2 separate regions of the Homo sapiens genome follow, and region 2 is linked to region 1. A link means that fine-mapping ties the variant in region 1 to the expression of a gene that starts in the linked region. Tissue or cell type: whole blood. Region 1 holds a variant in brackets; the other region holds the start of a gene. All regions are shown on one strand. Distances are between the middles of the regions.

What was found. PIP is the estimated chance that this variant, and not a neighbour inherited with it, causes the effect.
Region 2: it holds the start of POLR2I, and the variant in region 1 is fine-mapped to the expression of POLR2I in whole blood (INTERVAL, PIP 0.96).

Annotation. Positions count from the first base shown.
Region 1 is chr19:36,083,868-36,091,867 of GRCh38, reverse strand. It overlaps WDR62 (WD repeat domain 62), which reads right to left. Exons shown (of 32, transcript NM_001083961.2): 12 at 7,124-7,215; 13 at 5,056-5,181; 14 at 2,763-2,830; 15 at 2,562-2,683; 16 at 1,348-1,423; 17 at 557-668; 18 at 403-466. Among named protein-coding and RNA genes, the nearest start is that of OVOL3, 23 kb to the left of the region's middle. The variant T/C (reference allele first, on the strand shown) is at 3,462.
Region 2 is chr19:36,110,057-36,118,056 of GRCh38, reverse strand. POLR2I (RNA polymerase II subunit I) reads left to right here and starts at 3,182. Exons shown (of 6, transcript NM_006233.5): 1 at 3,182-3,259; 2 at 3,344-3,398; 3 at 3,645-3,718; 4 at 3,806-3,880; 5 at 3,991-4,042; 6 at 4,240-4,348. The coding sequence starts at 3,201. The coding sequence ends at 4,302. It overlaps OVOL3 (ovo like zinc finger 3), which reads right to left and starts at 6,914. Exons shown (of 4, transcript NM_001302757.2): 1 at 6,761-6,914; 2 at 6,624-6,688; 3 at 5,093-5,297; 4 at 4,346-4,604. The coding sequence starts at 6,854. The coding sequence ends at 4,396. TBCB (tubulin folding cofactor B) reads right to left here and starts at 2,589. Exons shown (of 6, transcript NM_001281.3): 1 at 2,383-2,589; 2 at 1,873-2,016. The coding sequence starts at 2,496. It also overlaps a transcript of WDR62 not described here. RefSeq lists enhancers at 1,859-1,948, 3,539-3,668, 3,687-4,198, 6,055-6,684, 6,685-7,315 and a silencer at 2,259-2,348.

The DNA of each region.
Region 1 (8,000 bases):
CTCTGTCACCAAGGCTGGAATGCACTGGCATGATCTGTGCTCCCTGCAACCTCTACCTACCAGGTTCAAGCCATCTTCCCCCTCCTGAGTAGCTGGGACTAGAGGTGTACATGACCACACCCGGCTAATTTTTTGTAGAGATAGGGTTTTGCTATGTTGCCCAGGCTGGTCTCGAACTCCTGAGCTCAAGTGATCCACCCGCCTCAGCGTCCCAAAGTGCTGGGGTTACAGGCGTGAGCCATCATGCCCAGCTTAGAGCTGGTATTTGAACTCAGGGCTGGGTGTGACACCAAGACTCCCACAATCCAAACTGGGCAGTTTAGAAATGCTCTCTACACAGGCAGGCTGAGTGCAGTGCTCATGGTATCTGAGCCACAACTCTCCCAAAGGTCCATGTCCCACCTGTCTCCAGATACTGTGATCAAGTGATGACAGTCATAGGTGAACTTCATGCTGGTAATAATTTCTGCAAACAAAGCAGAGAGGCTGCACTTGCCTTCGGAGTCAGAGGGTGTGGGCGGGTGGGGAGGCATCCCAAGCAGAGAGGCACACCCACCTGAATGGCCAAACATCTTGGCAATGCACTCGCCCGAGTAAAAGTCAATCACTGAGATGCTTTTGTCAGAGCAGCTGGTGGCCAGGAAGGTGCCTGAGGGGTCCACATGGACCTGCCAGGAAAGGGACCCACATGTCACTCCAGCTGCCTGCTTCTTCCTTATGATGAGGCCTGGGCCCCTCCCTCCCCCGTGCTGCATGCACAGCACATGGGACTCTGGCAGGGCAGGAGCTCCCGCTCCCATTCGACACGTGAAGAAATTAACAACCACCGCAGCAGTAACAACAGTAGCCAGGCCCTGTGCTAAGCACTGAACATGTGCAAACTGAACTCCTCCAGAGAACAAGTCTATGAGACAAGCTGTCTGTGTGCATTTCAAGAGATGATGCTTGCCCAAGGTCACACAGTCAGCCTGAGGCAGAACCTGAACCCATAACTGTCCTAGACCAGAGGCTCTGAGAAGGTCCCCCCTTGTCCTGAGTGACCCGTGGCTGGTGTGGGCAAACCAGGAGGGGAGTTCATGCCTCTGATTCTTCCCACCATACCCTGCTGCCACTCAAAATGGAACCCACTTAGACGCCCCACTTGGGGAAGGGCTCTGTAAATAAAGGAAACACAGCTGGGGTCACCCTCCCCACCCTCTCGCAAGCATCCTTGTTTAACCAGGCCTGAGAAGGTGCTGGGCAGCGCGGTGCACTGAGGAAGGACCAAGGGCACAGGTCTCAGGTGTGGGCCGTCACAATAGGTGGCCCATCAGGGCAGCAGACAGACAGGGGTCTCCAACTCCTCACCTTCAGCAAGGACCCTTCGTCACCCTGGGAGCCCTTGTAGCACTTCTTCTGCTTCCCGTTCACAGTGTTGTAGACTCTGGGGAAGTAGGGGCATGTTGCGGCCAACAGGGCCCCGCCTACCCCACCACCTCATTCTCTGGCTCTTGCTGTCCTCCCCTCCCCTGGAAGCCCCCTGCTACCTCTTGTCCCCATCTGATGCCTAGACTGAAACTGAAACCCCATCTCAAGCTGAGGTTGTCCTGGGGTATCCACTGAGTTAATGTTCATCTCCCCCACACACTGCAAGCTCAGTGCTTGGCACCGCATGAGAAAGAACTGGGAAGGGGTGCAGAGCCTCTTTGCACTGCTTTGCCCTCTGCACACTCACTCTCTGCCTCCCCCTGGCTCGCTCCTCCACATCCTCCCCAGGCTAAGGTGTCTCTTCCTCCAGGAAGTCCTGCTTGATCCGCAGGTGGGGTCAGGTGTCTCCACAGGGCCCCTGGGCTCCCCCATCTCTGACCACTCTGTCACTGTCTGTGGCTGTGAGGTGGCCGTGTCCATTCTACTGGACTGTGAGCTCCATGAAGGAGGGCCTGGGGCTATCCTGGCCACTGCCATGATCCCAGCACCATCCAGCCCAGTTAGGTGCTCAGGGAATACGGGTGAATGAGGGAGTTTATGTGCCACATCAGCACCTTAGTCATCCCACACCGGCTCTAGGGAGAGCCAGAAGAAAGCCCTCTGCTGACCTGGAGGCCAGGCTTGGGAGAGCCCAGCTTCTAAGAAATACCTGCTGGTGGCCGGGCACGGTGGCTCACGCCTGTAATCCCAGCACTTTGGGAGGCTGAGGTGGGCAATATCACCTGAGGTCAGGAGTTCGAGACCAGCCTGGCCAACATGGCGAAACCTCGTCTCTACTAAAAATACAAAAAATTAGCTAGGCATGGTGGCAGGCGCCTGTAATTCCAGCTACTTGGGAGGCTGAGGCAGGAGAATCACTTGAACCCAGGAGGTGGAGGTTGCAGTGAGCTAAAATGGTGCCACTGCACTCTAGCATGGGCAACAGAGCAAGACTCTGCCTCAAAAACAAAAACAAAAAAAAACCAAGAAGGAACACCTGCTGGGTCCCTCAATTCCTTCCCAGCTTCTTGGGGACCAGAGGAACAGAGGGAGGAAAGCAGACAGCCTAGGACAAGGCAGACCAGGCCAGCTAAGGGTCCAGGGCCACCCCTTACCTCACATTGCGGTCCTGGCAGGCCACGGCCACGTACTTCTGGGTGATGTCAATGTCCATGTCATACAAGGTGGTTTTCTCTGCTACGTGGTGGGTACGGACAAAGTGTAGTCCATCCGAACCCTGGCAGGGCCGGCAGGACCTTCAGAGAATGCCCCGACAACCCCCCACCCCAGCCCCCAAGGAGGCCATGCCACCCTACCTGCTGGGCACTGCGAAAGTAGATGCTCTTGTCAGCCCCACAGCTGATCATCTGGATGTCTCTGTTGCCTAGGGGAGGAGGACGCTGTGTGTTAGGCAGGGCTGGGCCACATGGGCAGGGGACCCTAGCTGGGGAACTCCACTGCAAGAGCCATCAATCAACTGTGCTGGGATCAAGGCTTCCTAAAGGTGGTGAGGTGGGTGCTGGGTCTGGGTGGGACTCTGTAAGGTATGAGCTGTACGTGTGAGGGGGCACAGGTGGAGCTGTGGCCAAGGCAGGCTCTGCAGAGCAAGGGCATATAGAGAAACAAAGGCTGGGGACAAAGAAGGGACACCCTCTCCAGTCTGGGATTGAGATAGGTGACTTGAGTAGCGGAGTAGAGGCAGGACTGCAGCAGCGACCAGTGGAGACAGGCTGGGAGGCTCGTGCCATCAGGATCAACTGCAAGATCCACATGAGCCTTGGGCCAGGCCCCATGCATGTAGCGGGTCTTCCTGAATGCTCACCACCCATCCCACTGGACAAGCATGAACACAGAGGTTCACAGAGTCCTTGTCCCAAGGCACACAGAGAGGACAGGGGCAGGACTGAACCCAGGCATTCTCTGGTGCCAAGGTCAAAGCTGTTAAACACTGCTCTGAACCTGGGCCTCCCCTTTGAGCCTCAACTTCCGGTCCGTACAATGGGCATGGTGACAGT[T/C]CCTTCTCTGGAGAGTGATGTGAAGCCCTTGGAACAGGGACTGCCACATGGTAAGCATTAGAAACATTCTTGCTTTTATTATTCTCATTTCTTTTTTTTTGAGACAGAGTTTCGCTCTTGTTGCCCAGGCTGGAGTGCAATGGCGTGAGATGCCCCCGGCCGTCTCATTTCTTTACAGAATAACAGTTTGGTGAGGATGAAATGACAGAACAAATATAAAACTCTGAGTCTGGGCACATCACACATGCTCCTTCATGACAGGACATTTGAGAGGGTCCAGGCCTGACATACAAGTATTAGATGTTGCTCAAGGAGGAGTCATTGGCTCACAGAAGGGAGTGAGCCCCATATAAGGGAGGAAGGGTAACCTGGGAGGGACCCAGAGAAGGCCTGCAAGCCTCTGGTAATGTTCTGCTTCTTAACCTGCACGTGGTGAATCCAAGTACCGTATTTAACAATATTACGACCATGAGCAATTAGAACAGTCTCTGCTATCAACAACGTCCTAGTTCAAACCTTGCTCCTAAGAACTGTGGATACTCACTTCGGCCACCACGCCCAGCTTATTTTTTATTTTTATTTTTTTTGAGATGGAGTTTTGCTCTTGTTACCCAGACTGGAGTGCAGTGAAACAATTTTGGCTCACTGCAACCTTGGCCTCCTGGATTCAAGCTATTCTCCTGCCTCAGCCTCCCAAGTAGCTGGGATTACAGGTGTGCACCACCATGCCCGGTTACTTTTTTTGAATTTTTAGTAGAGACGGGGTTTCACTATGTTGGCCAGGCTGGTCTTAAACTCCTAGCTTCAGGTGATCTGCCTGCCTCAGCCTCCCAAAGTGCTGGGATGACAAGCATGAGCCACCACGCCCGGCCTATATTCTTCTTTTTTTTTTTTTTGAGACAAAGTCTCGCATTGTCACCCAAGCTGGAGTGGAGTCACTGGCGCAATCTTGGCTCACTGCAACCTCCGCCTCCCGGGTTCACACAATTCTCCTGCCTCAGCCTCCCGAGTAGCTGGGATTACAGGTGCACACCACCATGCCTGGCTAATTTTTTTGTATTTTTAGTAGAGATGGGGTTTCACTATGTTGGCCAGACTGGTCTCGAACTCCTGACCTCATGATCTACCTGCCTTGGCCTCCCAAAGTGCTGAGATTACAGGTGTGAGCCATGGTACCTGGCCATTATTCTTTTTTTTTTGAGACAGGGTCTCACTCTGTTGCCTAGGCTGGAGTGCAGCCTCCACCTCCCAGGTTCAAGCAATTCTCCCACCTCGGCCTCCTGAGTAGCTGGGATTACAGAAACAACACCCCGCCCAGCAAATTTTTGTATTTTTAGTAGAGACGGGGTTTCACCATGTTGTCTAGGAAGGTCCCGAACTCCTGACCTCAGGTGATCCACCCTCCTTGGCCTCCCAAAGTGTTGGGATTACAGGTGTGAGCCATTACACCCGGCCCCAGTCATTATTCTGTATACTGTACACAGATACTGTATTCACTTGTTTGGATATATATTTTACAGGAGAGTTGAAAGAATGAATCCTTTTTTAGCAGGGTAGCTAGCAAGGCGCAGGGAGCGGGAAGAAAGGGGCTCACCAGCGAACTTGATGGCGGTGATGGAGGAGGAGTGGTCATCCAGCGTCTGCTCCAGGTTGTAGTTCTTCTCCACGTTCAGCACATGGATCAGCCGGTCCCGACTGGCTGAGGCCAGCAAGGTCAGCCCTGTGAGAGGAGAGAATGAGACTGGTTCCTGAAGGCTGCGTGGGTGCCCTGGCCTCCCAGAAGGGCAGTGTGACCAAGCTGCCCAGTCCTCGGAGAAGGGGTCTTTGGTTCTTCAACTGTAGCCAACTTGGCCCAAGCCTGGCAAGGGCCACTCCCTTAGCTCTGTGTGGTCTTTCCCAGAGCCCCCACACCCTGGCATTTCACCTCCTCACCACCAGCTCAGGGAGGATGAGTCTCGATGGGCGCATGGACGCTCCTCCAGGGACATCCACAGCAGACGCCCCAGCAGAGCCCAGCGCTCTTGCCTGCTGGGTCTGTGCTGGGTAAAGCCCTGGCAACCTCTCAGCCTCTTCCAAAACCAGTGTCCTCTCACCCTCTGAGGTCTGGCTACCTGGGCCTTGTTCAGGTCCTATTGACTGCCTGTGGCCAGACTCCCATCTGCCACCAGCCTTCCCTACTCTGGTCACTTGCTATGTCTGAGGCCTAATAACATGACCTGAGGCAGAGGGGAGATCAGGAGAGGCGAACCGAGTGAAGATATGTTTCAAGACAAGTTGGTGGGGCACACAGCATGGGGGATGAGAGAACGAAAGAAGAACATGGGGAAAATCACATCAGGATATAACTCCACCAACTCTGTAACTCCCAAAGTGCTGGGATTACAGGCATGAGCCACCGTGCCCAGCCTAGAAAACATCTTGAGGAGCCGGGCATGGTGGTTCACGCTTGTAATCCCAGCATTTTGGGAGGCCAAGGCGGGTGGATCACCTGACGTCAGGAGTTTGAGACCAGCATCGTGCAATACCTTCTATGCTAAAAATAAACAAGAAAAAGGACACAAAATGCTACCATATATCATCCATATATCATCTGGGTGACAGAGCAAGACTCTGTCTTGAAACAAACGAAATCTTCACTTGGAAATCTTCTCCTATCTCATGATCTCATCTGATGGCCCAGAAGGAATTTTCTGTTGTTTTAATGAAGAGGACCATGAGGTCTGGAGACCCTACTATGGTCCTAGCCTTCAGCCTAGGCTAACATGGTGAAACCCCGTCTGTACTAAAAATACAAAAATTAGCCGGGTGTGGTGGGGGCGTGCCTGTAATCCCAGCTACTCTCGAGAGGCTGAGGCAGGAGAATCGCTTGAACGCAGGGGAATCGCTTCAACCTGGGAGGCGGAAGTTGCAGTGAACTGAGATCGCGTCATTGCCCTCCGGCCAGGGCGACAGAGTGAGACTCTTGTCTCAAAAAAAAAAAAAAAAAAAAAAAGGTCAGGTGTGGTGGCTCATGCCCTAATCCCAGCGCTTTGGGAGGCCAAGGCGGGCGGATCACCTGAGGTCAGGAGTTTGAGACCAACCTGGCCAACATGGTGAAACCCCATCTCTACTAAAAATACAAAAATTGGCCAGGCATGGCAGCAGGCACCTGTAATCCCAGCTACATGGGAGACTGAGGCACGAGAATCACTTGAACCAGAGAGGTGGAGGCTGCAGTCAGCAGAGATGGTGCCACTCCCCTCTAGCCTGGGTGACAGCAAGACTCCATCTCAAAAAAAAAATTGAGGAATTTGGGTGAAGCCTATGGGGTGTTCATTATAATATTCTCCCAATATTTCTATAGGCTTCAAACTTTTTGAAAATAATGCCTAACAATCAATCTATCTTCTCATTCACAATTCACTCATTCATACATCCACCCCTTTGGCTTGGGTGCTGGCACCAGCAGCGGGCAAGTCAAGCTGAGTCCTGCCTGCGGGTGTCTTGCTTTCTGAAGTCCCAGCCACTCTGGTCTCAGGGTCCAGCTACAGGGGCCCTTACCGAACACAAAACTCCCAGCTGTCATCCACAGTCCCACCAGACACCAACTACCCCTTTCTGTGGCCCTGCCAGGGGGGCTGCCTCCCTGCCTGACCCCCATTCCACCCCTGCTGCGGGCTCACCCGTCTCTGGCTTGGAGTACTCCAGGCACAGCACCTCAGCATCATGGGCCTCCACCTTGACCAGCTCGTCCATGAAGTGCAGCTCGTGGATCCTGGGAGACACACACCGCCCGCTGAAGCCCCACACCCCAGCCCCATGTGCTCTACCACTTCTAGAATAGGTCAGAATGGCCAGGCCACCAACAATGAGAACCCCTTATCATGGCCAAATACTCTAGACATGCACAACCACTTTTCTCATTTAGAAACCTGCCATCGTAAAGGGAGCCGTGTTGAACCAGGGAGCACCTCAGCAGGCAGCAGCCCCTTGTGGTGCCTGGGCCAGAACAGAGCCCCAGGGATCTAGGACAGTCTTCTAGGGGGGCAGGTGTTTACGTAGGGCTGCATCAGAGGTGGTCCCTGGGGTAGGACAGGGGCCAGGGGCTAGGGGCCAGAGGTCATAGTCCAGGATAGGAGCTATGGATGAGAACATTTGATTCCAGTCTCTCATTGTTAAAAGAGTCTCAAATCTAGACCTTCCTGATTCTCCCCAAATGAAATCAGTCATCGAGTCATCCCAGCTTCTTCATTCTACCCGTGTGATCTTACTCCAGACACCTTGTGCCAATAACATCACTTACATCAGGGGTCAGTGAGAGGATTAAATCAGTCAACACAGTGCTCAGGCCAGCGCCCACCAAGGGGGAAGAGCACTATCCCCATGTTGGCTCTTGGTACCGTTTTGCCACTCCAGACAGTGCCATGTCAATGTAAGCAGCTCACTGACACACTGAGCTGGTCTCATACAGTGACTGATATCAAAACAGGTGCCAATATTTAAAAATTATCGAATTTCACAGAAAAAAATCGGCACTTTCTGCTCTTCTTGACAACAGGA
Region 2 (8,000 bases), 26 kb before region 1:
CGGTGGCTCATGCCTGTAATCCCAGCACTTTGGGAGGCCGAGGTGGGCGGATTACCTGAGGTCAGGAGTTCGAGACCAGTCTGACTAACATGGTGAAACCCCGTCTCTACTAAAAATACAAAAATTACCCTGGTGTAGTGGCGGGCATCTGTAATCCCACCTACTCGGGAGGCTGAGGCAGGAGAATCGCTTGAACCGGGGAGGCGGAGGTTGCAGTGAGCCGAGATCATGCCACTGCACGCCAGCCTGGGAGACAGAGCAAGACTCTGTCTCAAAAAAAATAAAAAATAAATAAATAAACTCCACCCTGAAGCTAAATTTTCTCTTCTGCAAAATGGGGATAATTACATTATCCTTGTGGTCTTACTTTATGGATTCAATTCATCATTCAACAATGATTCACAGGGCTGGGCGTGGTGGCTCATGCCTGTAATCCCAGCACTTTGCGAGGCTGAGGTGGGCAGATCACTTGAGGTCAGGAGTTCAAGACCAGCCTGGCCAACATGGTGAAACCCCAACTCTACTTAAAATACAAAATTACAAAATTAGCCAGGCGTGGTGGTGCACACCTGTAATCCCAGCTACTTGGGAGGCTGAGGCAGGAGAATAGCTTGAACCCAGGAGACAGAGGTTGCAGTGAGCTGAGATCACACCACTGCATTCCGGCCTGGGGAACAAGGGCAAAACTCTGTCTCGAACAAAACAAAACAAAAAACGATTCACGGACTATCCTCCCTGTCCCAGGCACTATTCCAAGTACTGGGGACACAGTAGTGAATTATAGTGATCAAAATTTCCACCCTCAGGGCACTCGAATCCAGGGAGACAGAGAGTAAATAAACCAGATGAGAGAAATCCAGAGTGTGTCAGAGGAGAATTACTTGTAAACACAAAAATCTAAAATAAAGCAAAGAAGGGGAAAGGAATGAGGTAAACGTTAACACTGAGGCCGGTGAAGACTTCACTAGAATACTGACACTTTAAATTAAGACAGGAAGGAAGGGTGAGGCACGCAGGCATATGACAAAAGAACCATTCAGGCCCAGGATCCAGAGGCCGAGCTCACCTGGACTGTGCAAGGAGCAATGTGGCTGCTACAGACTGAGTGAGGTCGGGAGGGAATAAGGACAGAAAGGGGCTGGGCTTGGTGGCTCACGCCTGTAATCCCAGCACTTTAGTAGGCCAAGGTGAGCTGATCACTTGAGGTCAGGAGTTCCAGACCAGCCTGGCCAACATGGCAAAAACCCATCTCTACTAAAAATACAAAAATTAGCTGGGTGGGCACCTGTAATCCCAGCTACTCGGGAGGCTGGGGCACAAGGATCACTTGAACCCAGGAGGTGAAGGCTGCAGTGAGCCCGATAGTGCCACTGCACTCCATTCCAGGTTGGGTGACAGAGTGAGACTCTGTCTCAAAAAAAGACAGAAAGGATGTACTGAGTGGATGCACAAAGAGATCCTGTGTTCTGGTTTCTCCCAAGCTGTCCAGCCTGGTCGCTCACTGTGACCTACCTCACATTCTAGGCCTCTGTACACCCTGCTCCCTCCTTTCCACCTCTTTCTCTTAAGTCACCCTTTCCTCATCCCTCAGCTCAGACATCCCTTCCTCCAGGAAGCCCTCTCTGATTCTCCCAGGTGGAGTCAGGCACCTCTTCTTGGTGGCTCCAGTCCCCTGGGATTTCCTGATCCCAGCCCAGACCACTCTAGGCTGTCCCTGTCTAATGATGGGTCTGTCTCTCGTCAGGCTGCACTGGAGGCTCCACGAAGGCAGGACCTATCTCGGGTATGACTGAGGGCAAAGCCCAGCAAGTGTCTGTTGAATAACCAAATGAAAGGTGGGGTGGGGGAGTGTCCCAGATAGAGAGTCCTCACGTGGATGCGGCAGCCGTCATCTACAGGGTAGGAGCCCAGGAGCGCATCCTCTTGATCCAGCTTGCTGTAGAACTTGTCGTCAACTCCATACAGCTCCAGTTCCATGCAGGAAGCAGGGCTGCCCACCAGCAACTCCAGTTTACACTGTGAGGAGGAGGCAGGGTGAGAAGAAGGAGGCCACGGAGGCCCCGCCCCTTGCATCAATGACCATCGCCACGTCCCTTTTCCTCCAAAAGACCCCCCAGTCAGGACGCACGGGGCCGCAATCCAGCCCCTCGCCTCTTGCCCCCGCCCTCTGGACCGTCGGATTTTTCGCTGGACCCGGCCCTCATCTCTGCACTCTCGAGTTCTCTCCGGACCCGCCCCGCCGCGACCGGGTCCCCAGCCTCCGCAGCCTGGGATCACCTCCGGGCCCGCCCAGTCACTCCCCGGCCCCTCCCAGCCTCCCCCTTCCGGGAACCCCCCAATTTCTTCGCCCCGCCCCTCCGGACCCCGCCCCCATGGCCACACCTTGAACTCAGCGATGGTGAGGCTGCGGCTGTATCGCTTCTCGGAGCGGAAGGTGTTGAGGGAGCTGCTGATGAAAACGGTCACCGTGGGTGCCGACACCCCCGTCACCTCCATCTTGCCGCGCCCTGCGGATGCCTGCAGCGCGGTCCAGCCGCCTCACACCCGCTCCGCAGCCGCCGCCGCCGCTGCTGCTGCTGGGCTATCAGCCCCGCCTCCTGCTCCGTGCCTGACCAATCCGCGCTCTCCTGCCAGGAGCGTCCGCCAATCGCCGCCGTCCCTTCCCCACCGCCAGGAAGAGGGCTCTCCTTACTCTTGGGCCAGCCCAGCCAATCCAGAGGGGCCTTCCATAGTTCACGGTTCTTCCAATAGCGGCCCGGGAAAGGACCAGAACAGGCGGCGAAGACTGAAGCCCGGAGGTAGGAGTGGCAAGAGCTCGCCCAGTCCGCGAAGGGTAAACTCGCGCATGCGCACTGGCCTTCAACCAAGCCAAGCGCCTTGGCTTCTGTCCTGGATGCTCAGTGTTTTGCGGTTTACGATGCGCATCGTTTTCCCGGCTCTGGCACCAGATCCATACTATTCTGTAAACTGAGGCGGCGATGCCCAAAAATTGGAAGCAATTACTCTAAGATATCAAAAGATTGAAGCAAGCCATGAAACCTCTGCGCGGAGAGAGCCGAGCCCGAGGCGGCGGGGAGCCAGCACGTGTGCGCAGCTCCGCCCTCTTTTGGCGAAGCACCTAGGCCTGGCCCCTCCCGCGACCTGTAGCGCGGCGGAGCAAGCGCGGAAGGCTGGGAGGGCTGCGCGGGCTGCGCGTCGCCATGGAGCCCGACGGGACTTACGAGCCGGGCTTCGTGGGTATTCGCTTCTGCCAGGAATGGTGAGGCGGAGGGAGCGGGTGATGTTAGAAGGCGGGCGAGGAATGGCTCCAGAACTAACCCCTGGCACCTCCCCCTCCCCACAGTAACAACATGCTGTACCCCAAGGAAGACAAGGAGAACCGCATTCTGCTCTACGCGGTGAGCGCCGGGGTCTTCCCCGGCAGGTCCACCTGTTCCCAGCGTGGCCCCGCCCTGCCCCCTGCCTCTGTGATCGGACTCCCTGTTCGCCCTCCGCTGCACCTCAAGTGATCCTGACTCTCATGTCCTGCCCATCCCCAAAGAGAGTCCTGTCGTCATATCCTCCGGGATCACCCTGCCCTCTCCTCCCAATCTTGTCTGGAATCCTTCCGTGACCCCCTTTCCCCCACACTCGCCCTCTCGTAGTGCCGGAACTGTGATTACCAGCAGGAGGCCGACAACAGCTGCATCTATGTCAACAAGATCACGCACGAAGTGGAGTGAGTGGCGGGCCCTGAGCTGGGGGCGGGGGTGTTGGCTCTGGAGGCTGGGTCTGAGCGTAATTTTGCACCCCCGCGTCCCTGCAGCGAACTGACCCAGATTATCGCCGACGTGTCCCAGGACCCCACGTTGCCGCGGACCGAGGACCACCCGTGCCAAAAGTGAGCGTTCAGCTGGTACTGGGGAGGTAAAGTGAGGCTCGTCTCCTCACTGGGCGAAGGGAGGAGGGAAGGGTGTGAAGCCTCCGGTGACCGAGCCCCTACCCTCTCAGGTGCGGCCACAAGGAGGCTGTGTTCTTCCAGTCACACAGTGCGCGGGCCGAGGTAAGTGGCGCGAGGGCTTTCTAAGTATCTGGGGCTTGTTTGGTCCTTTCTGGGGGCGGGGATATCAATGTGGGTGACCCTGCGCTTCTTGGAACTCTGCCGGGCCCTTACCTATTGGTGAAGTTCTCTTGCCTGTTCTTTTGGGGTAAGGCGCTGCTGGGTCCAAATCCTTCCTAACCATGCATCATTTCTGCCAGGACGCCATGCGCCTTTACTACGTGTGCACAGCCCCACACTGCGGCCACCGCTGGACCGAGTGACCTCCTCTCTCCCCCGAGTGTAATAAACACCAGATTCCATGCGTGAGTTTTCTGTGTTTATTTGCCTCGTGGGGAGGACGCTGGCACACCGTATCAGGCTGCGCGGTGCAGGGCGCGGTGCTGTGCGTAGGTGTCGGGCCGGGAGCTGGTGAAGCCGCAGTCCTCGCACACGTGCAGCTTCTCGCGGCGCTCACGGTAAGCGTAGCTGGCCGGCTGTCCATGCACCTTAGCAAGGTGAGCTTCCAGGGAGCAGCGCTGCGTAAACGCTTTCCCGCAAGCACTGCAGCGGAAGGGCCGGATCCCTGCACAGATGGGCGCAGAGGGGAGGGCTGGACAGAGAGGGCAATGGGCTCTGGACTAAAGCGCCCCCACCCTGCTTTCCAGTGTTGAGCATTTCTGGTACCTATTCCAAGCTCTTCAGACTCTTCCGCCCATGACCCACCATCTGCTACCGTCACCCAGTGCAGACATGGGCCAGACACCTGTGTCTCCACTCTCCCTCACCAGGATGCTCCCTCCCCTGGGGGATGGAGAGGGAGGCCTTCCCTTGCCTTTCGATCTGGAGCCTGAATCGTATAACCGGCATCCGTCTGCACTCTGCATTCCGTGACAGGCCCCTATTTTGGTGCCACCTTACACCCACCCACTGGGGTCCGAGAGACATCATGTCTTGATTCTCCATACCCCACATACACAAACCATGGACACTCCACAGCCCAGCACCTCTCTCCATTTCCTTCCATCCCCACCTGGGGCCCAGCAACTTTTCCCTGTCCCTGCCACTGCTCACCAGTGTGAGTCCTCATGTGGCGCTTGAGATCGAAGGCGTCATGAAAGCCCTTGCCACAACAGCGGCACAGGTGGCGGCGCACGGGGCTGTGGCACTTGAGGTGCCTTGTCAGCATGCGCTGCAGAGGGAAGGCCTTAGGGCAGAGCGGGCAGCCCAGCGTCCCAGGGCCCCTGGGAGCAGAGGTCAGGTTGCCCTGTGTGGGCTGCTGGAGGGATGCAGGAGTTATTAGCCTCTCTGGCTGGACCCCATCCACCCTTTGTTACTCTGCAAATGAGTATTTACAGAGTGTCCTGAGCCACCACGGAGGATTAGGAAGGCAGGTGGGAGACAGTGATTAGTGTGTGTGCCTGTCACTCTCCAGGGCCTTCCCTCACTATCCCATGGTCCTTACTTTCTCTATGCCAAGTCCCATCTTCTGATGTGACATACACATTTTTTTTTTTTAAAGACAGAGTCTTGCTCTGTCGCCCAGGCAGGAGTGAAGTGGTATGATGTCAGGTCACTGCAACCTCCGCCTCCCGGGTTCAAGCGATTCTAGTGCCTCAGCCTCCCCACGATTACACGATTGTAGGCATGCGCCACATGCCCAGTTAATTTTTTTATTTTTTGTAGAGATGGGGTTTCACCATGTTGGCCAGGCTGGTCTTGAATTCCTGACCTCAAGCAATCCACCCACCTTGGCCTCACAAAGTGCTGGGATTACAGGCATGAGCCACTATGCCCGGTCTATTTTTCTAATTTTATTGTTTTTTTTGAGGGGGGATGGAGTCTAGATCTGTTTCCCAGGCTGGAGTGCAGTGGCGCAGACTCGGCTCACTGCATCCTCTGCCCTGCCTCCTAGGTTCAACTGATTCTCCTGCCTCAGCCTCCTGAGGAGCTGGGATTACAGGCACGTGCCACCATGTCTGGCTAATGTTTGTAATTTTAGTAGAGACAAGGTTTCAACATGTTGGCCAGCCTGGTCTCGAACTCATGACCTCAAGTGATTCACCCGCCTCGGCCTCCCAAAGTGCTGGAATTACAGGCTGACTAATTTTATTGTCTATACATGCAGCCCCAACCAGAATATAAGCTCCATAAAATTGTGGATTTTTGTCTTATTCCCGCTGAATATAACAGCCCATGCCTAGAACAGTGCCTTGCTTTCATGAATATATTACATTCCGGCTGGCGCTTTCCTTCCTCCAATGCATGCACAGCTGAAAAAGCCCTTATCTCCCATCGCACTCCTGTTGCCTTGTCCCATGTTCTGACATAAAGCGGATCATCCACATGTGGGGATGAATCTTGTGCCCCGCTGGAAGAGATCCCTGTGGCTGCCGGCCCTGGTGCCTGGGGTGAGACCTAACAGTAGAGAGCTCACTACTAGGAAAGGAGAGGCATTCCCAACACAGAGAAGTAGGGGCGGACAGGTCCCGAGGCTGGAGGGCGTGTGCAGATGGGTCGGGGGAGCAAGGGGCTGTCAGCTTCATTAAGGCTGAGAGCAGGCAGGAGCGAAACAGCTGGCTTTGCTAGCCAGTTACACACTCACCGCTGTCCACGGATCCCTGACACTGGACGACTGTTGTGCCGGTGGCCCCCCCAGGCTGCTGCAGTCTGAGGAGAAAAGCCAGATGGTGACACTGCGTCTCTCCTGCCCCTTACCTCCAGGCACAGTGAGGGGCCCACCTGGGATATAGGCATCTCCCCGGAGCTGGTCAGGCAGATGGCCCCAGTTGGGGGGCTGTGGACGCCGACTCCTGACCAGGAAGGCGCGGGGCATGCCCTCCGGAAGGCTCTCCACACACAGGGGCTGCTTCCACCTGCTGTCAGACCTCAGCCCCAGGATGACTATCCCTGGTGGGAAAGGAGGGGAAGCCTCTGAGGAACCTCATTCTCTTCATGCAAATTTCCTGGCTGGCCCTGGGAGTGGACTAAGCTGGCTCAGGTTACCCCTGCCTGGGGACCTGCCCATCTTCTCCCAGGTTTTGGAGGGAACCATCCAGCCTCCAGGGGTGGACAAGCACTAGGACCACCAAGCAGAGCCAGGCAAGGGGAGATGGGCCTGGGGAGCTTTTGAGGATAGGAAGAAGAAACAAGGCCCCAGGGGGACTGTCTCCCAGGGGTTGAGGGTCTGTTTGCCAGGCAAATCAGTCACCAGGGGACATCCAGCAGCCTGCCTGGTTATTCAAATCACAGCAGCTGTCTGAGGACACTGAAGGGGCCCCCTGCTGTGATTGCCCTGCTCTGTAGGGTGCAGGGAGGACAGCAGATCTGGATAAATCAGGGCAAAATGAGGATCCAGGCTGTGCATCCTCAGGTAGGATGCCCCACCTCTCTGATCTTCAGATTCCCAGGGCTAACATTCAGCCAGAAGCACTGTTCAGGTGTAGCAGGCACTAAAATACTAGTTTGTTAATAATCTAGCCCCTAGTTACTGCCTGGGACAACACTCTTCCTCCCTCCCACAGTCTGGAAAGTAAAAGGGGGTCTCCTATTTTTTTTTCTTTTTTTGAGACGGAGTTTCACTCTTGTTGCCCAGGCTGGAGTGCAGTGGCACCATCTTGGCTCACTGGAACCTCCACCTCCCGGGTTCAAACGATTCTCCTGCCTCAGCCTCCTGAGTAGCTGGGACTACAGGCATGCACCACCACACCGGGCTAATTTTTGTATTTTTGGTAGAGACAGAGTTTCACCATGTTGGCCAGGCTAGTCTTGAACTCCTGACGTCAAGTGATCCGCCTGCCTTGGCCTCCCAAAGTGCTGGGATTACAGGCATGAGCCACCGCACCTGGCCCAAAGGGGGTCTCTTGACACAGCCAGGGGCTCCCAGGACCCTACCCCGGCACACTGGCCAAGCTGTTTTACACTTGATTCTTAGCCAGAAGACTAAGAAGCAATCCAAGCTCTGTTTTTTAATTTTTTTTTT